Homo sapiens: one gene and its partners. The protein of the gene in region 1 purifies or fractionates together with the protein of each later gene. This does not show direct contact. Each region holds a gene or a part of one and is shown in the gene's direction. Other genes may lie near its edges. The genes, in order: TEAD2, LRRC41, RALY, HOXA10, MACROH2A2, SMARCA1 and ZBTB20.

The links.
Region 2: the proteins of TEAD2 (region 1) and LRRC41 purify together in Homo sapiens (affinity purification with mass spectrometry; one large-scale study listed by BioGRID and IntAct). This does not show direct contact.
Region 3: the proteins of TEAD2 (region 1) and RALY purify together in Homo sapiens (affinity purification with mass spectrometry; one large-scale study listed by BioGRID and IntAct). This does not show direct contact.
Region 4: the proteins of TEAD2 (region 1) and HOXA10 purify together in Homo sapiens (affinity purification with mass spectrometry, with the first as the bait; one large-scale study listed by BioGRID). This does not show direct contact.
Region 5: the proteins of TEAD2 (region 1) and MACROH2A2 purify together in Homo sapiens (affinity purification with mass spectrometry; one large-scale study listed by BioGRID and IntAct). This does not show direct contact.
Region 6: the proteins of TEAD2 (region 1) and SMARCA1 purify together in Homo sapiens (affinity purification with mass spectrometry; one large-scale study listed by BioGRID and IntAct). This does not show direct contact.
Region 7: the proteins of TEAD2 (region 1) and ZBTB20 purify together in Homo sapiens (affinity purification with mass spectrometry; one large-scale study listed by BioGRID and IntAct). This does not show direct contact.

Annotation. Positions count from the first base shown.
Region 1 is NC_000019.10:49,342,296-49,345,535, reverse strand, and holds part of TEAD2 (transcriptional enhancer factor TEF-4), read left to right. Parts: intron 1-2,137; coding exon 2,138-2,305; intron 2,306-2,945; coding exon 2,946-3,098; intron 3,099-3,240. UniProt on the Homo sapiens protein: Transcription factor which plays a key role in the Hippo signaling pathway, a pathway involved in organ size control and tumor suppression by restricting proliferation and promoting apoptosis.
Region 2 is NC_000001.11:46,293,134-46,297,212, reverse strand, and holds part of LRRC41 (leucine-rich repeat-containing protein 41), read left to right. Parts: intron 1-4,079. UniProt on the Homo sapiens protein: Probable substrate recognition component of an ECS (Elongin BC-CUL2/5-SOCS-box protein) E3 ubiquitin ligase complex which mediates the ubiquitination and subsequent proteasomal degradation of target proteins.
Region 3 is NC_000020.11:34,066,813-34,070,891, forward strand, and holds part of RALY (RNA-binding protein Raly), read left to right. Parts: intron 1-4,079. UniProt on the Homo sapiens protein: RNA-binding protein that acts as a transcriptional cofactor for cholesterol biosynthetic genes in the liver. Binds the lipid-responsive non-coding RNA LeXis and is required for LeXis-mediated effect on cholesterogenesis.
Region 4 is NC_000007.14:27,171,026-27,175,855, reverse strand, and holds the start of HOXA10 (homeobox protein Hox-A10), read left to right. Parts: upstream 1-1,535; 5' UTR 1,536-1,549; coding exon 1,550-2,507; intron 2,508-3,682; coding exon 3,683-3,957; 3' UTR 3,958-4,830. UniProt on the Homo sapiens protein: Sequence-specific transcription factor which is part of a developmental regulatory system that provides cells with specific positional identities on the anterior-posterior axis. Binds to the DNA sequence 5'-AA[AT]TTTTATTAC-3'.
Region 5 is NC_000010.11:70,104,665-70,108,743, forward strand, and holds part of MACROH2A2 (core histone macro-H2A.2), read left to right. Parts: intron 1-4,079. UniProt on the Homo sapiens protein: Variant histone H2A which replaces conventional H2A in a subset of nucleosomes where it represses transcription. Nucleosomes wrap and compact DNA into chromatin, limiting DNA accessibility to the cellular machineries which require DNA as a template.
Region 6 is NC_000023.11:129,488,699-129,492,777, reverse strand, and holds part of SMARCA1 (SWI/SNF-related matrix-associated actin-dependent regulator of chromatin subfamily A member 1), read left to right. Parts: intron 1-684; coding exon 685-837; intron 838-2,585; coding exon 2,586-2,718; intron 2,719-3,692; coding exon 3,693-3,841; intron 3,842-4,079.
Region 7 is NC_000003.12:115,144,408-115,149,140, reverse strand, and holds the start of ZBTB20 (zinc finger and BTB domain-containing protein 20), read left to right. Parts: upstream 1-1,852; 5' UTR 1,853-1,922; intron 1,923-4,233; exon of another isoform or gene 4,234-4,328; intron 4,329-4,733. UniProt on the Homo sapiens protein: May be a transcription factor that may be involved in hematopoiesis, oncogenesis, and immune responses. Plays a role in postnatal myogenesis, may be involved in the regulation of satellite cells self-renewal.

The DNA of each region.
Region 1 (3,240 bases):
CAAAAAATGAAAAAAATTAGCTGGGTGTGGTGGTGCGCACCTGTGGTCCTAGCTTCTGTGGAGGCTGAGGCAGGAGGATCACTTAAGCCTGGGAGGTGGAGGCTGCAGTGAGCCAAGATTGTGCCACTGCCCTCCAGCCTGGGTGACAGAATGAGACCCTGCCGAAAGAAAGAAAGGAAGAAAGGAAGAAGGAAAGAAAGGAAAGAAAAGAAAGAAGGAAAGAAAGAAGGAAGGAAGGAAGGAAAGGAAGGAAAGGCCTGCTGAGGGCCTGAACTTTACTGTTCTTGCTGGGAGTGTTGTTGTTCTGGAGCTTGCTGTTCACGGTTCTGGAGCTTTCTGCCATGTGAAGCAGAAGCCTGAAACTGCTCTGGGGATGTGCAGCTGAGGGCTTAGACATTGTTGGGGCTTAAGACAGGCCTTATCAGGTCCCAGGACTGGAGAGCCACCCCCTTAGGAAGCCCAGCTGCTGAAGGGGTTCAGAGGAGCAGCTGGTAAGGTCTTTGGTTTTGCCACGGTGAGAGATGGAGTCGGGCCCCTGAGAAGACGGACCTGGCACAGTGTTAGCAACTAAAGTTAGGAAGAGGAAGAGGTGCGCCTCGCAAGGAGGTGACTCAGACCAAAGGTGTGATGAGCTCTTAGGCTTCCTTAGGCCCCACTTGGCCTAGTGACACTTGGCCAGCTGTCTACACACACTTGGCCACTGGGGTCATGGAGGGAGTCTGACCTCTCAGATTTGGCCGAGGGGGAAGTGCTCTGAGGAGGAGTCAGGCCTCCTCAGGCTCCGTGAGGTCCCGTTGCTAGGGAGTAGCCACTTGCCTTAGCAACCAGAGTGAGAGGGGCTTAGAGGGAGGTATTCATCTTGAACTGGTTGCTAAGAAGTAACTGCCATAGTAACCAGGCCCTTGGAAGGGGCTGAACTCTTGAGTTGCGGGCTTCAAGGGAAAAAGGTTGAATTGGCTGGACACAGTGGCTCATGCCTGTAATCTCAGCACTTTGGGAGGCCTAGGTGGGTGGATCACCTGAGTTCAGGAGTTTGAGACCAACCTGGCCAACATGACAAAACCCTGTCTCTACTAAAAATACAAAAATTAGCCAGACATGGTGGCGTGCGCCTGTAATCCCAGCCACTTGGGAGGCTGAGGCAGGAGAATCGCTTGAACCCGGGAGGCAGAGGTTGCAGTGAGTCAAGATCGCGGCATTGCACTGGGCAACAAGAGCGAGACTTCATCTCAGAAAAAAAAAAAAGAAAAGAAAAAAGGTTGAAATTGAATTCCAGGGCTCCTTTGGTTACTGGGGAGACAGGGCCAAGACTGTTTTGGGGACCCAGACTTCTTCAACGCTGATGGACGGTGGATCTTCTCCAGAAACCAGCCCTTGGAGAACTTTGAAAGCCTGACGCGGTGGCTCATGCCTGTAATCCCAGCACTTTCGGAGGCCAAGGTGGGAGGATCGCTTGAGCCCAGGAGTTGGAGACCAGCCTGGGCAACATGGTGAAACCCTGTTTCTACAAAAAATACAAAATATTAGCTGGATGTGGTGGCATGCACCTGTGGTCCTAGCTACTCAGGAGGCTGAGATGGGAGGATCACTTGAGCTCAGGAGGTCGAGGCTGCAGTGAGCTGTGATTGTACCACCACACATTGCCTGGGTGACGGAGCAAGACCCTGTTCCCCCCCCCCCAAAAAAAAAGACAAACAAACAACAAAAAAACAAAACAACACTGAAGAATCAAGCCGGGAACTGCAGGGGTAATGGTAGGCTATGGGGCAGAGTCCCCACTGTGTTTTTTTTTTTTTTAAGATGGAGTTTCGCTCTCGTTGCTCAGGCTGGAGTGCAATGGTATGATCTCGGCTCACCGCAACCTCTGCCTCCCGGGTTCAAGTGATTCTCCTGCGTCAGTGTCCCAGTAGCTGGGATTACAAGCATGCACCACCACGCCCGGCTAATTTTGTATTTTTAGTAGAGATGGGGTTTCTCCATGTTGGTCAGGCTGGTCTTGAACTCCCAACCTCAGGTGATCCGCCCGCCTCGGCCTCCCAAAGTACTGGGATTACAGGTGTGAACCACTGCGCCTGGTAGTCCCCACTGTTTATAAGGGATGTCCCCTCTGACTCATCTGTGCCTTCCCATCTCCCAGGCGGACCTGAACTGGGGCCCAAGTGGTGAGGAGGCAGGGGCCGGTGGCAGCATCAGCAGTGGTGGCTTCTACGGAGTGAGCAGCCAGTATGAGAGCCTGGAACACATGACCCTCACCTGTTCCTCCAAGGTCTGCTCTTTTGGCAAGCAGGTGGTGGAGAAGGTGGAGGTGAGGCTGGAGGGGTGGAGCTCTGGGTCAGCACTTGGGGGTGCAGAATGGACCAGAAGCCATCATGACTCAGGCATTTGGGAGTATGCATGGAGGGAGTGGGTCCCAGCCTCTTTGAGGGTTTAATGCATGCGTTGGGAGCTAATGGGCAGTTCAGAAGTCACAGGCAGGGATCATTCTGCGGGCTGACAGGTAATGTGTAGTATAGAGACTTAGAGTCACTGAGATTGAGAAGGGTCTTATGGATATGGAGAGGTTCTTAGGGCAAGAAGGTTCAGAAGTCACACTTACAGTTGCTGGAGACTTGGGGAAGTCTCAAGTTTAGAAGTCAGAGTTTGAAGACGTCATGGAGGGGTCTTTGGAGGGTATCTGAGGGCTGGGAGGTTAGAGGAGTCCAGAGGTCTTTGGGGGTTCAGAGAATCACTTTGAGGGGCTTGTGATTTGCAGGCTCAGAGATCCTGATTCGGATCTCCGAGGGTTCAGGCCCAGTCTCCAGTCACTGTGGGTGGGGTGATGAAAGGAAGGTGGCAGTGAGAGTGAGTGTGGTGGCATCTTAGAGGCACAGGGTGGAGCTCAATTCCTGGGGTGACCCGTGGGTCTCTCAGCCACCATTTTCCCAACTCCCTTCCCCTTGGTTCAGACGGAACGGGCCCAGCTGGAGGACGGCAGATTTGTGTACCGCCTGCTGCGCTCGCCCATGTGCGAGTACCTGGTGAATTTCTTGCACAAGTTGCGGCAGCTGCCTGAGCGATACATGATGAACAGCGTCCTGGAAAACTTCACCATCCTCCAGGTGATGCCTGGGGCTGGGCTGGAGTGGGGCCCCCCAGTGTGGAGGGACAGTACCTATAACAGACCCTCAGTCTAGGGGATCTCCTCACCCAGGAACTGACACAGCAGGGACTCCAAAGTGAGCCCTCAGCCTGAGGCTCTTT
Region 2 (4,079 bases), on another chromosome or scaffold:
CATGGTATCGGGATGAGGGATAAAGGAGTATGATTAGTAACAGCTTGTATAAAAAAGATTAAGGGAGTTTAGTCAACAATGTGTTGAAGCCACTTATAACGACTATACCTTGAGCTGTGTGAACTAATGTAAATATAGTATAGGCTGAAGGACAAGGTGGACAACAGTCCTGCCTAGCTCTGCAATGGTCAGGCTACCCGTGGAGATTGGAGAAAGTCAAAGCCACATTATGTGAGTCACATTGGGACAACTGGAGATGTTTTTCCTGAAAAAGAGAAGACTTGGGAAACATGACCCATCTTGAAATATATGAATGGCTGTCACATGAAGGAGGGATTAATAGACTTGTTCTGGATGGAAGCTAATGGAAGATACATTTTTGCTAACCTGAAGTTTACGTAAAGCTTAAACCCTGAGCTTATGAAACAAGCTAATTCTAGAGGTAATAAACTTCCCATCACTAAGTTCAAATGGAGTCTGTGTAACTCCTTGACACTAGGGTGTTCTGCAGGGGATTCAGCATTGTAAAAGGGGTTGCACAAGATGACTTTTAGAGCTCCTTTTAGACCTGAGATTCTATTATTCACTGATACAGATATAAATCACTGGAGCTCTCATTTAAGCAGTTTCTTTTGCTGCCCCATAACTAGGTGATGGGGTAGATTTAATTCAATAAACATTTACTGAAACTTAACCAGGTACCAGATCTTACACTAGATATTGGAAGAATAGATGCAGCCTCTAATCTTAAAGACCTAACAGTTTTGTTTTGTTTTGTTTTGTTTTGTTTTGTTTGAGACGGAGTTTTGCCCTTGTTGTCCACGCCGGAGTGCAATGGCGCAATCTTGGCTCACTGCAACCTCTGCCTCCCGGGTTCAAGCAATTCTCCTGCCTCAGCCTCCCAAGTAGCTGGGATTACAGGCATGCGCCACCACACCCAGCTAATTTTTTTGTATTTTTAATAGAGACAGGGTTTCTCCATGTTGGTCAGGCTGGTCTCGAACTCCTGACCTCAGTTGATCCACCCACCTCGGCCTCCAAAAGTGCTGGGATTACAGGCGTGAGCCACCTCGCCCGGCAAGGACCTACCAGTTTAATAGGGAAATCTACAAATAGATCACATATGATAGGATAAGTGGTGTAATAGAGGATAGTAAGAAGGTTGAGAGAGAAGAGAATAAGAAAGTCTTTCCTAGGAAGTAGTATTTGAACTGGGCCTTCTATGGTGAATGAGGCCAAATAACAGGTGGAAAAAAAGCTAATGTCAGGAATTGGAGATTTAATTTCTGGGGATGCACTGGGTTCAGTAACATTGAACCCCATCTCCTTCGGCTTATTCACTTCCAAATCTGGACTGCAACCCTTGGCGTTCAGAATGAGGACAACAGACCTTATGAGGAAGAGAAGCAGACTCAAGAATATTAGAAAACAGTAACTGCTTTTTGCTATCTTTAAGGAAACATCAGATTCACTTTGTTCCAGTATTTCACAAGCACTAGAGTTGACCAGCAAGTGATAAAGATTATATTTTTCTCTTGGAGAAAGCTTTCTGTCTTCTTGGCTCAAAGCATTTCAGAGCATTTAGAGGCCCCAGGCTTGGTGGCCCAACAGTCAGTTAGGCAGAGGTCCTAACTTGGAGCATGTCCATTCCAGAGGGTGTCTTTCCGCTTCCCACTTTTGCATGACAATAGCCTTCAGCTCATAAGTCACAAACAGTTATTCAGTGCCTGCTCAGTTCCATGCATTATGCTAGGTTCCAGGGATACAATGGTGAACAAGATAAATATAGAATGCTTATAAAGCAATAGTATTTCAAACTGTGTAGTACTGGGGTATATAAAGAGATCTGTAAGGTCAGGCACGGTGGCTCACACCTGTAATCTTAGCACTTTGGGAGGCTGAGGCAGGTGGATCACTTGAACCCAGGAGCTCAAGGCCAGCCTGGGCAACATGGCAAGACTTTGTCTCTACTAAAAATACAAAGAACTGGCTGGGCATGGTGGCACATGCCTGTAGTCCCAGATACTCGGGAGACCAAGGTAGGAGGATCACCTGAGCCTGGGAAGTCGAGGCTGCAGTGAGCCAAGATCGCACCACTGTACTCCAGCCTGGGCAACAGGAGAGAGACCCTGTCTCAAAAAACTAACAAATAAAAAAAGATCTGTATAATAGAATAGATACTCTGGAGAAAAAGCAATGAATAAATTAAGATTTACCCAATAAATTATTCTCTAGCAATTGGTTAGCTATTTGGAAAAAGTTAAGTTAGAGCCTCACTTTACAGTATACTCTAATGACTTTTGTATAAACAATAAATTGTGGCCGGGCACAGTGGCTCACACCTATAATGCCAGCACTTTGAGAGGCCAACGCGGGTGGATCACGAAATCAGGAGTTCAAGACCAGCCTGGCCAACATGGTGAAACCCTGTCTCTACTGAAAATACAAAAATTAGCTGGGCGTGGTGGCACGTGCCTTTAGTTCCAGCTACTCAAGAGGCTGAGGCAGGAGAATTGCTTGAACCCAGGAGGCAGAGGTTGCAGTGAGCCAAGATCACATCACTGCACTCCAGCCTGGGCAACAGAGCAAGACTCCGACTCAAAAAAAAAAAAAAAAAAAAGAATTAGTTGTAAAAAGTAAAGGCACAAGAGTCGGGTACAGTGACTGACATCTATAATCCCAGCTACTCCAGAGGCTGAAGTGAGAGGAATAGCTTGAGCCTAGGAGTTGGAGGCTGTGATCATGCCACTACATTCCAGCCTGGGGGACAGTGCAAAACCACGTCTCTTAAAAAAAGAAAGAAAGGGCTGGGCGCGGTAGCTCACACCTGTAATCCCAGCACTTTGGGAGGCCAAGGTGGGTGGATTGCTTGAGCTTACGAGTTTGAGACCAACCTGGGCAACATGGAGAAACCCCGTCTCTACAAAAAATAGAAAAATTATCCTGTTGTGGTGTTGTGCACCTGTAGTCCCAGCTACTCAGGAGGCTGAGGTGGGAGGGAGCCCAGGAGACAGAGGTTGCACTGAGCCGAGATCACACCATCGCACTCCAGCCTGGGCAATAGAGCCAGAACTTGTCTTAAAACAAAAACAACAAAAAAGTTTCAACACCAAAGAATAGAAAAAAATAATTTAAAAAAGAATAAAACCAACAGGCAGGTGTGGTGGCTCACACCTGTAATCCCAGCACTTTGGGAGGCTGAGGTGGGCAGATACTTGAGGTCAGGAGTTGAGACCAGCCTGGTGCATATGGTGAAACCCTGTCTCTACTGAAAATCAGGCATGGTAGTGCATGCCTGTAATCCCAGCTACTCTGGGATTACTACTTGGGAGGCTGAGGCAGAATTGCTTGAACCCAGGAGGCAGAGGTTAAAATGAGCCGAGATGGCACCACTGCACTCCAGCCTCGGTGACATAGTGAGACTCTGACTCAGAAAACAACAACAACAACAACAAAACAAAATAAAAATACAAAAATTAGCCGGGCGTGGTGGCACACACCTGTAATCCAAGCTCCTTGGGAGGCTGAGGCATGAGAATCACTTGAACCCAAGAGGCAGAGGTTGCAGTAAGACTAGATCGCTCCATTGCACTCCAGCCTGGGTGAGAGTGAGACTCTGTCTCCAAAAATAATAAAACCAATAAACAAAAAAAAGTAAAAGCACAAATCAGGCCGGGTGTGATGGCTCATGCCTACAATCCCAGAAAAACGTTGGGATGCCAAGGTGGTCAGATTGCTTGAGCCCAGGAGTTCAAGAACAGCCTGGGCAACATGACGACACCTTGTCTCTACAAAAAATACAAAAGTTAGCTGGGGGTGCTGGTGTGCGCCTCTAGTCCCAGCTATTAGGGAGGCTGAGGCAGGAGGATCAATTGAGCGTCAGGGGTCAAGGCTGCAGTGAGCAATGATAATGACACTGCACTCCAGTGTCATAACCTGTCTTAAAAAAGAGCACAAAACAACTAAAGAAATAATAAAAGTGACCATCCTAATCTCAGGATGGAGAGAGTACTAATTTTTTTTTTTTTTTGAGACGAAATCTCGCTCTGTCGCCAGGCTGGAGTGCAGTGGTGCGATCT
Region 3 (4,079 bases), on another chromosome or scaffold:
CACAGATTTGGTGGAGGAGGCACATTCATACCATAAGAGATATAAACTGGCTTTGTTCACTAAAATTCTGTACAACTGTGAGGAATTGTAGTAGAAAAGGGAAAGGGTGAGGACCAAGGAGAGCGTGTGTGGCTGACTCAAGGTAACATAATCTTGCCAGGGAAGTCAGAACCCAAGGCATCCCTGTGCCATGTGCAATCTTGCCCCTGCAGGTGCCTGTTTTTGAGGTCCTGATTCCAGTTCTGGCTTTGCTCTATTAACCAGTTACCTTGCTTCTCTGAACCTATCTCAGTTTCCCTATGTCAAACACCTCCTCACAGGGCTGTTGTGAGGGTTAAATACTGTAATACTGTGCAGCATTCAGTAATTAGTGGCCGTCCTTTTCTTTTTTTCTTTTTTTGACGGAAAGTCTCGCTCTGTCGCCTAGGCTGGAGTGCAGTGGCGGTGATCAAACAGTTCTCCTGCCTCAGCCTCCCAAGTAGCTGGGATTACAGACATCTGCCACCATGCCCGGCTAATTTTTTTTTTTTTAAAGTAGAGACGGGGTTTCACCATGTTAGCTAGGCTGGTCCTGAACTCCTAACCTCAAGTGATCCACCTGCCTTGGCCTCCCAAAGTGCTGGGATTATGGGCGTGAGCCACTGTGCCCAGCCAGTGGCTGTTGTTACTGTGACGGCTCTCTGGGTGTCTCATTTACCCAAAGATCAGAGGTACCTTTTAGGGCTTTTCTACCTTTGCAAACCCCTGCCACTTTTCTCCATGTTCAGGCTTGTTTTTTGTTGAATTTGTTTTTGCCACATTTCTTCTACTCTTACTAGCCTGGAGAAGCAGGCCCATCCCTTTGAGCCGTAAATTGCATTTCAAAGCCTGTTTCACTAGTGGATTTTAATTAGCTTAAAAGGCCCAGCTTTTATGCAGCAATTGTTTCTCCTGCAGGTAAAGGTGAAGGCACTTATTGGGGAGCCAGTCCCCAGTTTTCTCAAACGTAGCTTTTTTCTTTTTTCTTTTTTTTTTTTTTTTGAGACACTGTGCTCTCTCCCAGCTCCTCAGTGTCCTGGGGGCCTGTCTCTTACCAGCCCCAAATGAAAAATGGAATATAAGGACCCTAGACTTAGCGTCAGAAGACCCATGGGGTAATCTTGTCTCTGCTACTCACTAGCTGTAGCATCCTGGCCAAGTTTTTACTGTGGGTAAAACTTCTCTTCTGTTCTTCCGAGTAAGAGCATTTATAAGCTCCATGTGCACACAGGTCTCTGCTCATCTGACATTGCAGAAGTCTCTAGGAATAAATTTGCTTCTCTCCTTTCCCCCAGCCACCAAGAACAATCCTTCTACCCACCTCTCCTCAGCTCATTGCTAAACCTAGGACCCCTGGGGGCTGCAGACACCTTGCTCTCAATTACACAGCTAATCTGTGAGGCAGAGCTTGGCCCAGGGCAGGAAATAGCTTACCAAGTGAAGTAGCTCCTGCTGAATGGATGTCAATATTTTCTAGGGCTGCCACTCTAAGCTAGGGGGTACCTTGAAAAGCATAGGAAGAATTGGGTGGGAGGGATTGAGTTGGTCTGTGGAAGTGGGTGTTTGGTTGAAAGATTAGAAAATGGTATCTGGGACCTCTGCCCTAGTGGTCCTAACCACTTAAGGCAGCCCACAGCTAGACCTTCTGACCACCTCCTGGGACATATGTTTAACCACTCCCTCCCTAACATTGATTGAACACTTACTGTGCCCCGAGTTTTGTCAGGCCTGCCCTATAACATTTGCAGGGCAGAGTAATAAGAGTACAAATAGAGACCCATGTACCATATGTTTAAACATTTGAAGGTTCTGAATGAAGCTAATAAATTGTGATGTTCCCAACAACCTGGAATACCATGTCTTAATTTAGAATTCTTGGACTCATTAGGATTCTGTACTTGAACCTGGCAGTTCAGGGAGACCTAGCCTGGCTCTACCTCCTTTTCATTCCCTTTCCCACCTCTATCCCTCACTTAGAGGAGCCTCATCAACATGTGTGTGGTCACTCAAGCCTTTGCACACCCCCACAGATACCTGTCTCCTTGGGCTGAGGGAGTCCACACAACTGTAGCACATCCCACTTTCCAAAGGAGTGTACAGGGCATGAAAGTGGATAGGGGGCTGTTTAGACGAGGAGCTCAAGAGGTTGGGTACCTAGCGCATGCCATAGGTGAGCATTTCTCCTTTTAACTGCAGATTTCTCACCCAGAGCAGCATTTGCAACCACATACATACACTTCCCAAGTCTCTCCTCTACAGATCAGAAAACTGATCTTCATATGCCATGGCTTCTGGCTGCCCCTCCTTGGCATTATACAGAATGTGTTCCACTGTGACCTTTACCCTCATCTAGAATGGGGTTCGCAGATGGCAGTATTGGAATAAAGAGGTGCAAGCCAGTGTAATTACAAGATCTTGTGAAGGGCTTTAGGGTTTGCAAAGTCCTTTTATGTACATCATTCCAAACCCCAAGGAATGAGAGAAAAGACTGGCAGGGCCAAACCTTAAAAACTTGGCTCACCAGTCAAGGTGAGTCCTGATCTCGTCACAATACCACGAACAGCTGTTCAGCAAATGCTTCCTGCTCAGTGGTGCTTGTGGCTCCCAGTAGAGGTCACTCTTTGTATCTCTATCCACACCCCAGGCTTGGTTGACTCCCTCTAGCCAAAGCAGGTGGCTTCTCCCTAGGCCAAAACTATAGCACTTTGAGCTGAACCACCTAGGAGAGAATCATCTGATGCCCACACAGGGGCCCTATTAACTTCTTGTATACCCGTGGATAGACAAGGAATTAACCCTTGAATGGCTTGTCATCCATGTAGGAGAGGGACTGTCAGCGAGAACTGTGAGGAATGGCAAGCCCATGGGAAAAACATGTATTGAGCATTTCCTGCCTCGTATGCACAGTGTGTTACTACCTTTGTGTCCCTCACTGCCTGATAAGTGTAGATGAGTGGAACCAAAGGCAAACTGAGTAACAAGAGTCTGTCTCTTTCCAAGTCAGTTCCAAAGCTGGCACCAGCCCCTTCATCAGTAGCAGTGATGGGACCCTCTCAGCCCCTTTCCTTTATCTGAGATAATGCACTGCTGACTCTAGTATATCCATTGGGTTCACTTTAAGCCTAACCCTGGGAGCAGTTTCTTCCCAAGTTGGGCTCACGTCCAGCCTATGATTCCCTTGTAAACAGTACCACCTGCTGGTCAGAACGTGCCAGCTTCCAGGCTGGGAGGATTTAAGAGAAAAAGAGTCTCTTATCCCCTAGTGGGATAAGAGATACAGATGTATCTTTTCCAGTTCACTGAAAAGAAGTCCCCCCAAAATATTAGGTAAATAGGTTGGCAGACTGATGAAAGTTTTTATATATGCTATTTGGAGTCTTTTATCACCTGAAATGGCCTTAAGGTTAGGTTACTGAGATAGGAGGGTTCCAAAAGGGAGTGGCATCAACCTGTACCAATGAGCAGAAGACTGGGCCGGGAACTGCCAAGGCTTAACTTGAGGCTTTTCCTACTGAAATTGAGCTTCTCTCCTTTCCCCTTTCCTCTTGGAGCCTATGCCCAGCCGTAAACTGTACGGGAAAAATTTGTACAGCCCTTTGGGGTAAAAGACCTGGCCAGAATATAGAGAGCAAAGGGTAGGTGCAGTCTCATCTCTAAGCCAAACAGAACAAAATTTGAACGAGTTAGTATTAATATGGGTAACTAAAAAATAAATTTATTAAAAATAATTCTCAGGTGAATGTGCTGACTTTCTGTGGTATCTAAATTGGCTTTAGCTCTGGGAAGCAAAATGATAAAGTTGAAAGAAATAGACTTTAGTGACAGACTGACCTGTGTTCGAATGCTCATTACTAGTAAGTTAATGAACTTGTCAATCAGTTTCTGGTAAAATATGAGTAATCATGACATTAACTTGTGGGATCTTGGGATTATTCAGTATTGTATACCACCCTTAGCCACAGCGAGTGCCTGGTGAGGCTTTGTGTTAGTCCATTCTTGCACTGTTATAAAGAAATACCTGAGACTGGGTAATTTATAATGAAAAGTTTAATTGGTTCACA
Region 4 (4,830 bases), on another chromosome or scaffold:
CGTATGACCCGGATGCAAGAGTCTTTCCCAGCTGAAGGCAGCGGCCTGAGCGGTCTATTTCCTGGGATGCCGGCGTTCAGTAATGCCAGCTCCGACTGGGGCCGGAGGGGCGGGCAGGCCTAGAGTATCCTGGAGACCTGTAGCCCACGGGCCAGGGGCAAGGCAGCGACCTCCCGGGCTCCACTGGATCTGGCCGGAAAAGGTTGCATTTCCTGAGACTAGCATGAGGCTCACACTTGGGGGCTAGCACCCCAGGCCGGCCATTTCCAGTTGGCTAAAACAGAGCCCCTGAGCCTGCTGAGCAAAGGGCCTGACCTCCACATGCTCTTATAACAGGACCATGAGCCCAGCCCGGCCTTGCAGGGAAAGGATTTCCTCACCGAGGCCTCGTTAAAATGCACACACTGCAGGAGCAAGGACTGCCCTAGCTGAGGGTATGGGAGGGAGGGGAAGAGGGGAGGGGACAGAGAGGTAGGAGTGTAGTGACACTGGTTCTTGTTGTAGCCTCCAGGAGCATATGAGTGCCAAAGCTAACAGGAGAGCAGGAACATAAAGCAGCGGAGGTGTACACCGGGCACACCCCTCCAAGTCTCTCACTTTGGGCCAGCCAAGGACCCCAAGGCCAGCATTTTACTTCCCCGAAATGACTGTGGGCTTAGAGTCTTCCCTAGGTGATGAGGGGATGCTTGGATCTGGCTCTGGCCTTGGGAGTGGGAGTGGGGCCGTCTTTCCATCAAGGCTGGCAGCCGCTTCCCACCCCCAGTCCCGCCAGCCCACCAAAGTCCACTGACAGGAGTTGTAGAGAAGGCAAGCCGGGTGAGCACAACACCAGAGGAGAAGATCCTAACTGGATCAACGGACTAGGGGAGAAAAGTGTTGGGGGTTAGGGGCTAGGGAACAACCACTGCATTTTGGGGAAAAATCTGTGGATACTGGAAGTAGAGGCAAGTCAGCTTCTAGTTCACTCTGGGCTCCTGACACTCTGAGGATCCTGACGGCCATAGGGCCAGGTTCGCCACTTTTGAGGAGGCAGAATTCAGACAAGGGGCCAGTTCCAGATCCAGAGCTGAATGGGAAGCGCGTGAGTCCCCGACACGGCCGCTTCAGTGGTTAGAGTACACCGGGGACTAGTGGCAGCTTCTGCGACAGGGATGGTGAGCACCCAAGGCAGACTGGGCGCGCACCATAAACACCCCACTTGTTAACTGCGCGGGGCCCAAGGGCCCTTCTAAGGGACCCCGGTATGGGGCTCACGTCCGGGTAGGGGCGGGGCGAGCCCAATGGCCAGGCCCCCCACCAGCCACGTTGGGGCAGCCCCCACAGCTCCCGGCCTTCGGGCCAAGGTGTCGGGGTGCGTCTCCTGGCCCATCAATACAGATTACATATTTATATCAATCGCGGGCTCTGAGGGCGCCCTCGGAGAGCGGCCCCGCGCCTACGAAACCAAACTGGGAGTGGTCGCGCGGAAACTCTGGCTCGGGATTGGCTGCGGGCGCCCGCCGCGGTGCGGGGGGATTGCTAATCGTATTCAGCATGTTTTGCACAAGAAATGTCAGCCAGAAAGGGCTATCTGCTCCCTTCGCCAAATTATCCCACAACAATGTCATGCTCGGAGAGCCCCGCCGCGAACTCTTTTTTGGTCGACTCGCTCATCAGCTCGGGCAGAGGCGAGGCAGGCGGCGGTGGTGGTGGCGCGGGGGGCGGCGGCGGTGGCGGTTACTACGCCCACGGCGGGGTCTACCTGCCGCCCGCCGCCGACCTGCCCTACGGGCTGCAGAGCTGCGGGCTCTTCCCCACGCTGGGCGGCAAGCGCAATGAGGCAGCGTCGCCGGGCAGCGGTGGCGGTGGCGGGGGTCTAGGTCCCGGGGCGCACGGCTACGGGCCCTCGCCCATAGACCTGTGGCTAGACGCGCCCCGGTCTTGCCGGATGGAGCCGCCTGACGGGCCGCCGCCGCCGCCCCAGCAGCAGCCGCCGCCCCCGCCGCAACCACCCCAGCCAGCGCCGCAGGCCACCTCGTGCTCTTTCGCGCAGAACATCAAAGAAGAGAGCTCCTACTGCCTCTACGACTCGGCGGACAAATGCCCCAAAGTCTCGGCCACCGCCGCCGAACTGGCTCCCTTCCCGCGGGGCCCGCCGCCCGACGGCTGCGCCCTGGGCACCTCCAGCGGGGTGCCAGTGCCTGGCTACTTCCGCCTTTCTCAGGCCTACGGCACCGCCAAGGGCTATGGCAGCGGCGGCGGCGGCGCGCAGCAACTCGGGGCTGGCCCGTTCCCCGCGCAGCCCCCGGGGCGCGGTTTCGATCTCCCGCCCGCGCTAGCCTCCGGCTCGGCCGATGCGGCCCGGAAGGAGCGAGCCCTCGATTCGCCGCCGCCCCCCACGCTGGCTTGCGGCAGCGGCGGGGGCTCGCAGGGCGACGAGGAGGCGCACGCGTCGTCCTCGGCCGCGGAGGAGCTCTCCCCGGCCCCTTCCGAGAGCAGCAAAGCCTCGCCGGAGAAGGATTCCCTGGGTAAGCAGGGCTGCAGAGGGCTGCAGTCAGGCGGGCAGACAGGCAGACACAAGGAGGAGAAGGATCAGAAAACTAGGAGCCCGCGCAGCAGCCGGCCGGCCTTGGCCCAAGCTGCAGGCAGGCTGACCTTGTGAACTTGCTTTTTAATATTTGGGCGTGGGGACGCAGTAAAATTCATGTCCGGCTTAGCGCCCCACAGCAAGACGTCCTCGGCGCTGGCCTCAGCTCCCCCTGACTAGGGACGAGGACACCAGCGAGCAGGCCCCCTCCTGTGCGCTCTTTCCTGTGGCCGGGAGGACCCAGAGCCCTGGTCCCTGCCCAGCCTGCGCGGCGCGGCCCACGCGGGGGGAGGGGGAGGGAGGGAAAGTAGCTCGCCCGCAGATAGCGCGGATGTTTGTAAGGCATCCAAAATAAGCAGCCGCCAGCGCCAATAAATAAGCCCATTAACCGGCGAAGTTCGAGTTTACGATCCCCCATGCTTTTTTCAAAGTTGCTGAGGGGCGGGAATCTTCGTTGCGGGAAGAAGAAAAGGCAAATCCGGCCTGGAAGCGGGGGGCCCTGAGCTGAGAGCCAGAGAAGGGCCATTTCCCTTCCCCTGGACCTCGGAATCGCCCAGCTATCTATCCCTGGCTCCTGGAGAAACTTGAGGGAGGGCCCTTGACCCCCGAATCGGTTTTTCCTGCCTTCCCCATTGGACCAATGATGCCCTTCTTTCTCCCCTTATCGAGTCTTGGGCAATCAGGGCCCTGGGGTGAGACAGCCAAGCTGCCTGGCCCATCTTCCAAGTAAGCACCCCGCGCTCCTAGCCTGGGGGCTACAGGAAATGCTTGTCTGCCATATGGCAAGAGGCAAAGAAAAGCGTTAAGTTCAAGATGTACAGCCTGCCCTCCCAGGCCTTTCCTTCTGCAAGCATCTACGGCTTAGCGCTAAAACAGGTGTTTGGAAAAGTGGGGGAAATGTAAATTGGAAGGGTCATGTAGATTGAAGGCCCACTCAATTTTTGTCATGACTTTTGGAGGAACTGCTTGCTCTCAGCAAGCCAAAAACGGGGGCACGACTCTCTTCTCTGTGACTTGGGACATCTCTCTTATGGGAGAAACGGAGGCAATTCACCCCCGCGGGCAGCCCGTGTGGCCTCGACTTAATCATCCCCTCTTTATTCTCTTACATGCCAGGCAATTCCAAAGGTGAAAACGCAGCCAACTGGCTCACGGCAAAGAGTGGTCGGAAGAAGCGCTGCCCCTACACGAAGCACCAGACACTGGAGCTGGAGAAGGAGTTTCTGTTCAATATGTACCTTACTCGAGAGCGGCGCCTAGAGATTAGCCGCAGCGTCCACCTCACGGACAGACAAGTGAAAATCTGGTTTCAGAACCGCAGGATGAAACTGAAGAAAATGAATCGAGAAAACCGGATCCGGGAGCTCACAGCCAACTTTAATTTTTCCTGATGAATCTCCAGGCGACGCGGTTTTTTCACTTCCCGAGCGCTGGTCCCCTCCCTCTGTCTTCAGGCTCTGCCCAGGAACTCGCACCTGTGCTGGAGCCCTGTTCCTCCCTCCCACACTCGCCATCTCCTGGGCCGTTACATCTGTGCAGGGCTGGTTTGTTCTGACTTTTTGTTTCTTTGTGTTTGCTTGGTGCTGGTTTATTTGTTGTTTTCTGGGGGAAAAAGCCATATCATGCTAAAATTCTATAGAGATAGATATTGTCCTAAGTGTCAAGTCCTGACTGGGCTGGGTTTGCTGTCTTGGGGTCCCACTGCTCGAAATGGCCCCTGTCTTCGGCCGAGCTGGTTTCCTGCCCAGCCTGGGGCAAACCTAGCCGGAAGGCCGAGGTCCCATTGTTGGCGCTGAGGTGTCTGGCCTGAGGTCAATGGTGCAAAGGAGCCGCCACCGGGCATGTCTGCCTGGAGTGCTGTGCTGTGTTTAATCAGGGGATACAGGCCCCTGGGTTTCTTTTTTCTTTCTTCCTTTCTTCCTTGGCCAAGAGAAGGGCTTACAGGCATGGACATGCAGGTTGGCAAACGGGCTTGACTTTGGCTGATTTAAAAAGTGAGAAAGAAAGTAAAAAAGGTTAATTTTTCCTTCCTCTGTAAGATATCCCAGCTTTAAAAAGAAAAAAAAAGAATTACCAAGAGAAGGGGACTTCTCTTCCAGTTTCTGTAAGGTCTTACATTGCCTGACTAAAATGTTTCATTTACCTCTAAATTTCCATATCCTTCTGGCTGTAGATAAATAATGTAGTTTTGTTTATGCATTTGGAATTAGTGGATTTTTTTGTCATTAAAATTGTTACCACTGGTAACATGTGACAAGCACACC
Region 5 (4,079 bases), on another chromosome or scaffold:
AACTCTGTGTCTAAAAAACAGAAAAAGAATTTGAACCGCAAGCCAGTGCTCCTGAAGATTTGCAGCCAGATCCAGTGCAGCTCAAAACCTGAGGCAGAGAAGAGAGTGAGACATAGCCTTAGTTTGGTAGTGTCCCCAGGTGACATAGAAGGAAATGTAATTTCTTTCTGGAAGAACTCAGCTCCAGGCTGACAGCAGTTCTAAGATGCTTCCTGATTTCAACAATATTAAAATATTTAAACAAAAAAAAAGTGCATCTTAACATGGTTAAAACAGACCAACTGCAGTGCAGGCCCACCCTGTGGCAGGGGGTCGGGGAGGGTGGATCAAGAAAATATTTCAGGTGCAGAGTCAGTGAGAGGCAGCGATGCTGCATGTTCAGGGAGGCAGAAGCTGGAGCTAAGGTAAGTCCAGGGTTTCCAGGGCTGAGCAAACTGATGAAAAGTCAGGACTTTCATTCATTTGTTGAATATTGGAGCACCTGCCTGCCAGTGACTGTGGCAGGAGCCAGGCAGCAGCAAGGAATACAAAAGTGCTTCAGTGAAGATGTCAGCTGGGGCAGAACCAGTTCACGTTAAGCATCTACGGTGTGTGCTGTCGGGCGCAGGCATCAGGATGTGGATGTGATTGTAGGCCCTGAACACTCCTGAATTTTACAACCAGGCGGGGACCCCAGGGTAACACAGTACATCACTTAGCACAGCTGGCTGCTGAATTGCATGGCAGAGGCCCGGAGAGAATGGGCGAGGGAGTCAGGGACAAAGGAGGATAGCCAAGTGTGGAGACAGAGGTGCAGCCAGACCCATGTGTGCAGGGGACTGAGCCCACTGGCTGGAGGACGACTGGGCATCCAGAAAGAGCAAGAAATGGATAGACTCCAAGGGGAGAGGGGCCGACCATGAAGGGAGCCTGGGAGGACTGCAGTAAGGCCAGGGGGCAATCAGGAGCAGTTGCAGATTCTGAGTTTAAATGTGGAGTTTAAGGACCTTGGCTCCAGCAACCGTGTGGAGGATGGTTTGGCAGACAGAGGGCTGGGGCCCGAAGACCATCAAGAAAGCTGTATTGGATGAGGGTGGGGGTGGAGTGGGGGTGAAAATGAAGCACATGGGCCTGAAATGAGACAAGGCAGAGGAAACTGATGGTGTCTGCAGTGACAAAGAGGGAAAAAGGGGAATCGGGTTTCAGGAGTGAATGGCCATTTTACTGGGCACGTGTTAGCCCTGGGGCCCCAGAAAGGTCATGAGGTGCAGGTCCCTGTTGAAAGCTAAGGAGGAAAATGGCTTGCAGATGGCTGCTTAGGAGGTGGGGCTGCAGCAGAGAGAAGAGCACTGGGCCCAGACACGCAGGAAGAAGAGAGGCCATTGTGGGAAACTGAGGTGCTGTTAAAAGAAAACCCACAGTGTCACGGAAACCAGGCATCAGCAGTAGCAGCCTCTCAGCAGGACAAGGGGCCAACCTAGAGTCCCCTTTTGCTGTGGTGACTCCCAAGAACTGTGATGGCTCACCTGGGGGAAGGTTCTAGAAGCTCCCAGCAGCAGCACTGCCACCCTCAGAATGCAGGTCTTCACCAGGCAACATCACATTAGGTAAGAGAATGCCCCTAGTCATTATGTGGATAGGTGCTTATACCAAATACCAGGGTCACAGCCCTTGCAATAACTTGACCCTCATCCTTGACAACTCTGGAGAACATTACAAAGCATTATGGCTACAAGCTGTGTTATTCATTTCCAGTTGCCATGAACATACTTTGTTTTGGACTGAAATGTCATCGTGCACTACCCTGAAAGTCATTTTTTACTTGATTGGATGTTTGACATTGCCAATAGGAACATATTCCTTTTATTTAAAAATGACTTTTGGCTGGGTGCAGTATAATCCTAGCACTTTGGGAGGCCGAGGTGGGTGGATCACTTGAGGTCAGGAGTTCAAGACCAACCTGGCCAACATGGTGAAACCCCATCTCTACTAAAAATACAAAAAATTAGCCGGGCATGGTGGCGGGTGCCTGTAATCCCAGCCACTTGGGAAGCTGAGGCAGGAGAATCGAATCGCTTGAACCCGAGAGGCAGAGGTTGCAGTGAGCTGTGATCGAGCCACTGCACTCCAGCCTGGGCAACAGAGGGGCATCCTGTCTCAAAAAAAAAAAAAAAAAAAAGACTTTACATTAGAGGAATACCATTCTGCTAGTAACATGATTATACTTTTAAAATATATGAAATAAATCAGCCATGACTGTAACAAGCCAAACTCTGTCCGGCATACAATAGCAGCCAGGTGCTCGGGAAGATGGCACCATGCAGGCAAGGCCCATCTCCAGGGTCCTTGGTTCTCAGCAGAGCAGCCTCCAGTTTTAGGGGCATCATTGTTCAGTCCAAAGAGGGACACTCTGCTTCTGGTGCACAAATATACGTGGTCGTAGAGTCAGCACGCATGGCGGGCCCCTACCCAGGGCCTCGGTGTATTGTGTGGCCTGGGTCCTGCACTCAGGCGTTCACGTGTGATGACACTGAGCCCCGTCTAGGCACTGGAAGGCAGGGAGCCTACAGCCTCCCCTGATGGACGAAGGGGTCCCTTGGATTTGGCTTCTACCCATGTGAGGAAGTGCAGTCAGCACTTCCCTGACACTGTGGACATTGCCAGGAAATACTTATATAAACTAGGTGGGCATCATAGATTTCCAGTCAGTCTTTCACCTCAACCCCACACACAGCTCTGGAATACGGCGGACACACGTTTCTGTTACAAGTGCTGCCCCTAGTGGCCACGGACCCTTGCTACGCCGATTCCTGGGTTCCTGGAGGGGCACAGGGCGCAGACGGGCAGCGTGGGGGCAAGCATGGCTCATGGCTGAAGCTGCAGCTGCCTCAGGCAGATCCGAGGGAACTGCTCCCCTGGGGAGTCCCACAGGGACTTCCCTCGAGCTTAGCAGCCACGGGGCTTTATCAACTCTGTCACCAATGGGAACCACATTTAGGGGAGTAAACAGTAAAACAAAGGAGTATGACAGAAATTGTGAGACAAGGCTGGCCTAATTCAGTTTCACAGCCCGCTTTTGAAACCCCACTCTCTGCAGGGCATGTGGAGATCATCAAATGGCAGTCCCTGTCAAGGAACTACACAATCAAGTTCAGTGGTTCTCAACTCATAGAAGGTCCTAAAATCACATAAGCATAAGCCCCTGCACCAGACCTACTGAGTCAGGACCTCTGGGTGGTCAGTACCCTGACTCTGTGGGGCCCAGGCACAGCTATTTTTTAAAAGCCACAGTAGGCCAGGTGTGATGGCTCACGCCTGTAATCCCAGCACTTTGGGTGCCTGAGGCAAGAGGATCACTTGAGCCCTGGAGTTCAAGACCAGTCTGGGCAACATAGCAAAACCTCATCTCTATAAAAAAATTTTAAAAATTAGCACATGCCTGTAATCCCAGCTACTCGAGAGGCTGAGGCACTAGAATCACTTGAACCCAGGAGGTGGAGGTTGCAGCGAGCTGAGATCGCACCACTGCACTCCAGCCTGGGCGACAGAAAAAGACTCTGTCTCAAAAAAAAACTAAAAATAAAAAAATAAAAATAAAAGCCACTGTATTCATTTCCTGTGGCTACTGTAACAAATTACCACAAAGTTCGTGGCTTCAGACAACACAAATTTGTCTTCTTACAGTTCTGGAGGCCAGAAGTCCACAATGAGTTTTAAGAGTCTAAGATCCAGGTGTTGGCAGGGCTGGTTCCTTCTGGAGGCTCAGGGAAGGATCCCTTCCTTGCCTTTTCCAGCTTCTAAGCTGCAACATTCCTTGGCTCCTGGCTGCATCGTTCCAATCTCTGTCTCCTTCATCCCACGGCCTTCTCCTGCCTTTGACCTTCTTGCCTCCCTCTTATCAGGTCCCAGGCTCACCCAGACAGTCCAGGATCATCTCCCCATCTCAAGAGCCTTCACTTAATCACATCTGCAAAGTCCTTTTTGCCATGTACGGGAACACCCACAGGTTTCAGGGAGGAGGACGTGGATGTTTTGGGATGCCATTACTTTACCTGCCACAGCCACCAGAGAGGATCTGATGTGTCCCTTTAACTAGGAAC
Region 6 (4,079 bases), on another chromosome or scaffold:
TTTTCTGCTCATTTTTCTACTGGACTTTGTTTTTCTAATTAATTTGTATGAGATCTTTATATAGTAAGAATATTCATATTAATTTTAACATTCTTTACTAAATATCCCTGGATTGTCATCCTGATTTTCTTCATTACTTACCTGCTTGTTCCTTGTTACCATACTGATAGAAATCTTCTTACTTTCCCCTTTATCCGTTGCCCTCATTCCCATTTGTAAACCATTTTCTCTGTTGGTTGATCTTCTAAACTAATCATTCATAAGCTAATGGAAATGAAGTTGAGATTTCTGATATTTTACCTCCTAGATATATTTCAGCTCTCACTCAAAACGTTTTCATTATTATTGTTTTTAAATAATGTAAATGAATTATTACTTGCTTAGTTAAATTTGTGTATGTAATTGTTCTAAATTTGTATCTATCGATGTAAGCTTTTAAAGATTAGGAACTTCATTTATATAATATACTTTCTACAGAAATTCACACAGTACAGTATATGTATAGATGCTTACATATTTTTGAAGATGGAAGAATATTATAAAGTATATTTATAAGGAATATTATAAAGTGTGTGAAGATTTTCTATATGTATTTTAAATGTTTTTATTTGTTTCTTAAGGACCCTGATGGTCTAATTTTATTTTTCTCTTTTTCTTCTATCCCTTTATCAATAAAAAATAAAGGAAGCAATAGAGGCTTTTAATGCTCCTAATAGTAGCAAATTCATCTTTATGCTAAGTACCAGGGCTGGAGGTCTCGGAATTAACCTGGCAAGTGCTGATGTGGTTATACTATATGATTCAGACTGGAACCCACAGGTTGATCTACAAGCTATGGTTAGTAATCTTTAATGGTGTCAGAAATTTATCATAGCTCTGAATACTATTGCTATTTACACACATAAAGGTCATTTATGATAAAAAGGTAACAATTTTTGAGAGATTTTATAGAAGTTACAGTAGATTATCCTGGAAAACACAGTTGCTATGCTAATTGCAAAAACAAAAGAAATGAAAGCGAACAACAAACACACCCCAGATCCAACTTATAGCATTTATGTGTTGATTTTGGTTTTTTTCATGAAATAGAAATGTCAGTTTTTTCCCATTCCTACAGATTGAAGAGGACACATAAATTTGTTTTAATGAAAAGGATTAAAAAACAATCTCTTGTTATTATTCTGTTCAACAACTAAATATATTAAAATCCTTAGTACTGAAATTAAGAGAGGTAGGATTTTAACTTTCATAAAAAACAATTTGGGAGAGAAGGCAAAAAGGTAAGAAAGGAATATATTCCAGAAAAACACTTGCTACTTAATAATGATACCATGCAAAAGCTATTCTACACTTAAAAACATTTTTTTTTAGGGAGCAAAGTTTCTCTGACCTTTCATCATGACACTACAGGTAACCCCTTTGATATTTTGGTGTCATTTATTGAACTAGAGCTACAACTTCTCTCAATGTGACTCACATTTTCAGATAAAGAAATATAATTTAGAAGTAAAAAGATGCAAAATAACTTCTTAGGTTTTGAATATATAGCTATGGATAAGTGTCTTTTTGGGAGCAATGAAAAGTCATATGCCAATGAGGTATAACTTAGAAGGCTTTCCTTTTATAATAGAGAATTGAAAGGGATTGACCACTGGGACATTCCAAAATCAATATGCTTTGGCGTAATTATTATTGCATTACGATGGTATTGAACTACCTGTTTGATATGACTAACTAGGAGTAAGCCCCAGTAAGTTACAGTGTTACTGAACTGGAAAATCTAATAGTGATAGCACTTCATTTCCGTAGAAGTCTTAGTGTGCATCCCATCTTTCAGGATTTGCTGGTTCAGGTTTAATGTAAATATGTGCAGGGGATTGCATTCTGTTTGAAAAATGTGCTGTGTTGAAACTTTGTTACTAGGCTCTAGTGTTTTTATATTTAGTACAAGGCCTGTTTTGAACTTACATTTTTTTTTTCTCTACCACCCTCCTCCCTTTACCTATTTGCTCTAGCAGCTTCTGTGTTTTAAAAATACTCTCCCTAGATGGTTTTATACCACTAGAAGTTCGCCACCTGTCACCTGTACCAACTATAAACCATAGGACCAGTCCTAGGCTACTGAATAGTAAGGATAGTAATATCCCATTAATTTTTATAACTCTTTACTGCATATCCCTCAGTAAGCAGAAAGAAGTGCCTGATGATGAAATAAAGCAGACTTTTGCCACCATAGCAACCCTAACTACTTAATAAAATTCCTTGCTAGTTTCGAAGATGTTTATATTTAGTGGCTTAAAGTTACTTAGTAACTCAATCCAGAAACTTTCAGCTCCCTCTTTTATTCATCTTACAGGTGCTTTGCCCTTTGTCCTGGAAGTTTCCCATTAATGGTACAATATAATATTTGCAGATTTCTTTGTTCCCAGTGGTCTTTAGATATTCTCAATATTCATCATGCTCTTTTCCAAAGTGTCAGATCTAGAGAAAAATAACTAATTTTATTTTTAGAATTTTATAGCATATGATGGCTCTAAATTTTATCCAGAATATCCAATATCTTACATTAGAACTCTTTCTACTAGGATCGAGCACATCGTATTGGTCAGAAGAAACCAGTACGTGTATTCCGTCTCATCACTGACAACACTGTTGAAGAGAGGATTGTAGAAAGAGCTGAGATAAAACTGAGACTCGATTCAATTGTTATACAACAAGGTATTTATACATAGAAACTTAATTAGGTGTTTTTTGTAAAACACATGTAGTTTTCTTCAAAGGAGATTACTTTTAATAAAAGTTGACCAAAATTTGAAAACTTAGAGGAAAAATTGAAACATCACTGTGTATCCCATGAGTCTGTACAATTGTTATGTATCACCTAAAAATAAAAGGAAAAAATTTAAAAATGCTAATTGAGGCTGGGTGAGGTAGGTCATGCCTGTAATCCCAGCACTTTGGGAGGCCGAGGCGGGTGGATCACCTGAGATCAGGAGTTTGAGACCAGCCTGGCCAACATGGTGAATCCCTGTCTCTACTAAAAATACAAAAAATTAGCCGGGTGTGGTGGCGTGCACCAGTAGTCCCAGCTACTCAGGAGGCTGAGGCAGGAGAATTGCTTGAACCTGGGAGGTGGAGGTTGCAGTGAGCCGAGATCGCGCCACTGCACTCCGCCTTGGGCGACAGAGCAAGACACTGTCTCAAAAACAAACAAACAAACAAACAAACGAACAAAAAATGCTAATTGAAATCTTCTGAATTGAAACCCTGGCATTTGATATATGGAGTAGTTGAACATCACTAGCTTATTCTTGAATGTCAGTAGCATGCTTTTTGAAGTACCTGAGATTATTTAGCAGATAAAATGGCTACTTTTAAATTTTTGAAAACATATTAGAGGGTACCTTTTCATATAGAGAAGTTTGATCTGAAAACAGAGTTTGAACATGAAAAAAAGTTTCTGTCCTTCTGGGTTTTAACTGAGTTTTACAGAAGGGAATTTATATAGAAATAGAAAGTATGCTAGAAGAAAAACTTGTAGGGTTTATTAAACAAATAACCTTAATGCTCACTAATTTTTTGTTCTTTAAAGCTTTATGTGTGGTTAAATGTGATAATGTCTGATTAGAATGATTATGCCTTCTTTGGAATATGATTGATTGAATATGTACAATTTCAATTTTTATCATTAGGAAGACTCATTGACCAACAGTCTAACAAGCTGGCAAAAGAGGAAATGTTACAAATGATACGGCATGGAGCCACCCATGTTTTTGCTTCTAAAGAGAGTGAGTTGACAGATGAAGACATTACAACTATTCTGGAAAGAGGGGAAAAGAAGGTTAGTTAAAATAGCATTTTATTTTCATGCTGGATTGTTTTAATATCAACATACTTCAGCATACTTATATTTTCATTGTACATGTTTATCTGCATTATCTACATGTTTCAGGTAGCTCATATTCTCTCCAACAACTTGTAGATCTATTTCCAGGGGTAGATTAAGGCTTTAAAACTTTTTTTTGGTGAGAAAGACTAAGAACCAGAGTTTAAAATTGAGTGACCTTATATCTAATGCT
Region 7 (4,733 bases), on another chromosome or scaffold:
ACACCACACACAGTAATTTTCTGGATTCTCAAAGCCTCATACATATAATCCTCACAAGATAGCTTTAATAGTATTAATGAGGTCAAGGCCCTTACTTTTTTTTTTTTCACCAGGGCCAATTTATTTTGCTTAGTTTCTGTCAAAGACCTCTAACCAGGCATCTTATGTGAAAGCATGCTGTACGTTCCAAAGAAGCCTGGGTTAAAATCCAGATGACTTAAGTCTATTGGAAATTATACATCAAATCCATGTCCTAGAAACAATGTCATTTTCAAATCCCAAGTACAGTGTATTCTTTGCATGCATGGTATTTTTGATAAAGTCTCTTATTTTGTGACAAAATATTGCTATATCAGCTGCCTAAAAAAGTGCAACTTAGTTTGGCAGTAATTATTTTTTTTTCTTTGTATAGTGAAAAGCGATTTCCCCAACCCTCCCATCTTGGCCCTTGTAAGAAATCCTTTTTAGGAATCTATCCTGGGCTTCCTGCTGGACTTCAGCCTCATTTTTTTCTCCAATGCCTGAGTACTGGACCAATATTTGGTAAGAATTTGGCTCTGGGGAGTGCTATGTTGAATGACAAATGGTTGAGGACGAAGATTTTATTGAAGCATTTGAACCACACTTAATTTTCCGTGTTGCTTTATTTGTTCCTTTTACCACCCAGGATATTGAATTCTGTGGGCTCTGGTTGAGTCGTTGGTACTTCAGGCGTTCAGTAATAAGAAACATAATCTGCTTTTTCCGGCAGGATAATAAATCTCATTTATATTAAGGGAGGCTTACTCCAAACTCTTTTACATAGTATTTTTCTAAATCTTCTGCATGAACAAATTCTTCCTTGAGCCCTAGCACTGGGGACCCGGTCTGGCAACCTGCGCCCCATTCCGCGGGAATCAAGCGTGACCCGGTGCGGCCTTGCGCGCTGCCGCCAGCCAGACCCTCCCTCCGGCTTTCCCACCCACCGCCCGGGATCCAGCCTCCATCCCGCTGCCTCAGCTGTCCAAGACAGCGACACCCCCCTCTCCGCTCCCGCGGCTCCCCCGGCGCAGCTCGCCGCGCCAGACAGCGGGTAACCGCCGCCTCCGCTGGGGCATCCCGGCTCCACAGGCCCAGCGCGCTCCAGACACCTGCCTCTCACTGGCCACCGCCGCTGCCCCTCACCCCGCAGCCCTCTCGGCAATTGGCCCCAGGCCGCCGCTCGTCATCCTCAGCCTTCTCCTAGAGTACCGCCTCCGTCGCCGGGTCATTTAAGTTTATCACAAATAAATAAATAAAGGAGGAAATAGAAATGCGTAGAAAGTAAAAGCAGTAGGGGGTGGGGGAGATGGGGCGTGGAGGAAAAGGAGGGAGGAGCGGAGGAGTAAGCAACCTAACCTGATTGCGCCTGTGTCGACCAATCATGGCTCACTCCAGTCCGGTCTGACGGGCTCCCTGAACCAATAGCCTTCCACCTCCCGGATCACTGAACAACGAGATACGATTGACCTTTTCAGAAAGGGTGAAGGTGCGGCGGGGGGAGGGGGTTGTGGGGGTGGGCGAAGTGGAAGGATTGTCCACCAATCGCCTGTTAATACTTCTCTGAGCGAAGTTTCCGCGTCCCAATGGATGTTTGAGATAGCGGATTGGGCCTCTTTTAGCCCAATCGAAGGTGACAGAGATGAGGGAAGAGGAAGAAAGGGGCGGGGACGGGGGGGCGGAGGGGAGAAGGAAGAGTGCATTTTGTTTATGGGCGGCAACCTCACGAGGGGCGTCCCATTCTCATTGGCTCACTGAAGCCAAGATTGGCGTGAGAGCTATCCTATAGCGGGGAGAGATAGAGGGTTCGCGGAGTGAAGCGTCCAATGTGGGCCTTCTGCCGAAGAAGTAGGGGCGGGGGGAAGTTTAGGAGTTGAGGAAAGAAGATTAAAGAGCGCGAGGAGGTAATGCCACAAACTCTAATTTGTTGTGGGACGGGCGGGAGAGAGGGAGGAGTGTGTGCGTGCCGAGGGGGATGAGGCGTCTGCGAGGCGCCTGGAGTGGGGGGCGGCGGGACTGGGAAGGAGGGGAGCGGGGTGGGGTTGGGGGAGCGAGTTACAGAGCGGCGAGCCAGCGGGCCCTGAGCTGGATGAGCGCGCGCGCCCCCGCGCCCCGCCCCGCCCCGCCCCGCCCGCGCCCCCTCCCCCGGCGCCCTTCTTAGCGCCCGGCGGCTGCCTCGCCCGACCCGGCGGGGAGGTGGGAGGGAGGCGCGGGAGGGTCGAAGGGTGGCGGGGCGGGCGGGACGTCCCGCAGCTGGAAACGTGTCTTCTGCCTTCTTCTCTCTACTCCCTGCGCCTGGAGCCGCTGCTTCCAAGAAGAGGAGCTGAGGGGGACTAGCCGGGGCTCAGGAGCTGCTAGAGGCGCCCGCTTGTCTTCTGCCCCCTCCCTCCTCGCCCTCCCCCGCTTGCCGTGGCTCTCGCGGTCTCTGGAGCGTCTTCAGAGAACTGGGGGGCAGGAGGTGTCCTGGCCCCACAGCCGCTGGATGTCTCTCCAGACGCCGGAGCTCCCGGCCCCCGCCTGCTTCGCTTCTACGACTAGAGAGGAGGGGGCTTGGGAAGGGAAGACACACCTTTCCTTCTTTCTCTTCTTTGGGCCACTTCGGAAACATTAAAACATGTTAACACTTTTTGATTCCTGATATAAAAATGGTTGGAAGGTTCTTGAAAGTTTAAAACAAATGCCGTCTCTCGTACACTGTTTAATGTATTCCTGTCTGTGTGGCTTTTGGGTCCTCCCCCCACCCCCCGCCCCCAGCTGTTATCCTTTTTAAGGATGCTGAAGAGGCAGGAGGCAGGGATTTTCTAAAAGTTCTATTGATAAACACACTTGCACAAACATATGCTAGGCACACACACAAACTAAACATTAGCGAAAAACACAATATGGCGTACAGCTACGGTACCTAGCGCGGTAATCCGCTGATCTCTCACTCCGAACTGGGTTGAATGAGGTCAGTAGCAGGATGACAGCTCTCCAATGAAAATCTGAATGAATCAGGAAGTAGTTTGGAAGCTTGCGGGTGTAGTACTGTCCTCAGAATCAGCATTGGCCAAACCTAAGTTGAACATGTTACCTTTCTAGACATGTGAAAATCTTCTCCACTGTTTTTTCTATTAAAAATACCAAAAGGGTGCTAAAGTCAAGTTTCCTCACTGCGTGGCGGTGTATACATTTCAGCTAAAAAAATTATAGAGGCCATTCACCCAATGTTTTCAAGTGAACGCTATTCTGAAGTTACTGTTGTAACTTGTTGCCATTGAAAGTTTTAAAACACAATTACCATTTTATAAATAAATAGCTGTAGACACTAAATTTAAGTGATAACCAGTCATCTTTAAATTTATAATGGTTTGTTTTCATTTCTGTTCATGCTCCCAATCCCAAGTACCCTTTGCTATTTTGTGGAAATATTTATATAGATCCCCCTCCACTCCCGGTCACATACAGTCAGCCCTTCCTGTGCCTGGGTTCTGCATCTGTGGATTTAACCAGCTGCAGATCAAAAATATTTTGGGTGTGGGGGAATAGATGGAATAGAATATATATAGTTTTTTTCTTGCCACAATTCCCTAAACAATACAGTGTAACAACGATTTATTAATACATGGCATTTACTTGTATTAGGTGTTATAAGTAACCTAGAGATGATTTAAAGTATGTGGGAGAATGTGATTAGGTTAAATGCAAATACTACACTATTTTATGTAAGGGACTTGAGCATCTGTGGATTTTGGTTTCCTAGAGAGGTCCCAGAACCAATCTCCCATGGATACTGAGGGTCAACTGTAAGTTTGTCCAGTCAAGATGTGGCTACTTTTTGCTTTTTTGCTTTAAAATGAAGAATCTGTATTTTTCTAGTGAAAGAAAAAAAATTACATTGATTTTCATGCCTTTGTTCTTTGTGATTCTTAGAATATATCAAAGTTGTTGCACACATAGTGCATGGTGATATCCCTGTGCCATCTTTCCAGTAGTCTCCCAGGAAAGCTTTTGAAATTGCCCTTGAGGAATTGCTGATGTAACTGTTCAGTACTCAAGGCTTAATTTTCAAGATTGGGGTTTTGATTTTTATGGAGCTCAATTTTGGAGGGCCTTAGGTTTGGGGACACATGGTGTTGAAGTAAACAGGTGAGAAGAAGAAAAGTGAGATTTCTAGAACTATATTAGCTGCTCAGTGAGTTGGGCAATTGGATATTTTTGGTTTTATGATTTCAGATTTTATAGACCAGTGGAATACAGGCCTTGTGCATATGAAGATCAGGTGACAAGTTTGCTGCCTACCAGCCTCCACAGCAATATGCCCTTTCACGGTGAGGTCCTAATTTTAACAAGCTAAAGAAAGTATCAGGTTAAAAATTGTCAAATTTTATCCATTTCCAGGAAGAAGTCTTTATGCTTACCCATCTAGGCCCGTGTTTTAAGATTACTACAAAACCAAGAAAATGCACATATAGGTCATGTGTACATTGACTAGCTACTAAAAGAAAATACGAGATTAAATGGAATACTAGAGGAAAGAGAAACTTTCATGTGAGGGCTATAATTGGGGAAGGGGGTGTTTAGAACTACCAGTTGATGTGATGCCAGTTTCTTCTATAATTGGATCAGAAAGTTTTTGAGGCCCGCAAACATCTAATTCCTCTTGTTGTCCTGTTAATAAGAATTTGACTACTTGGTATAGGAAGAAAATCTAAGGAAAAAATATTTTAAGCGAA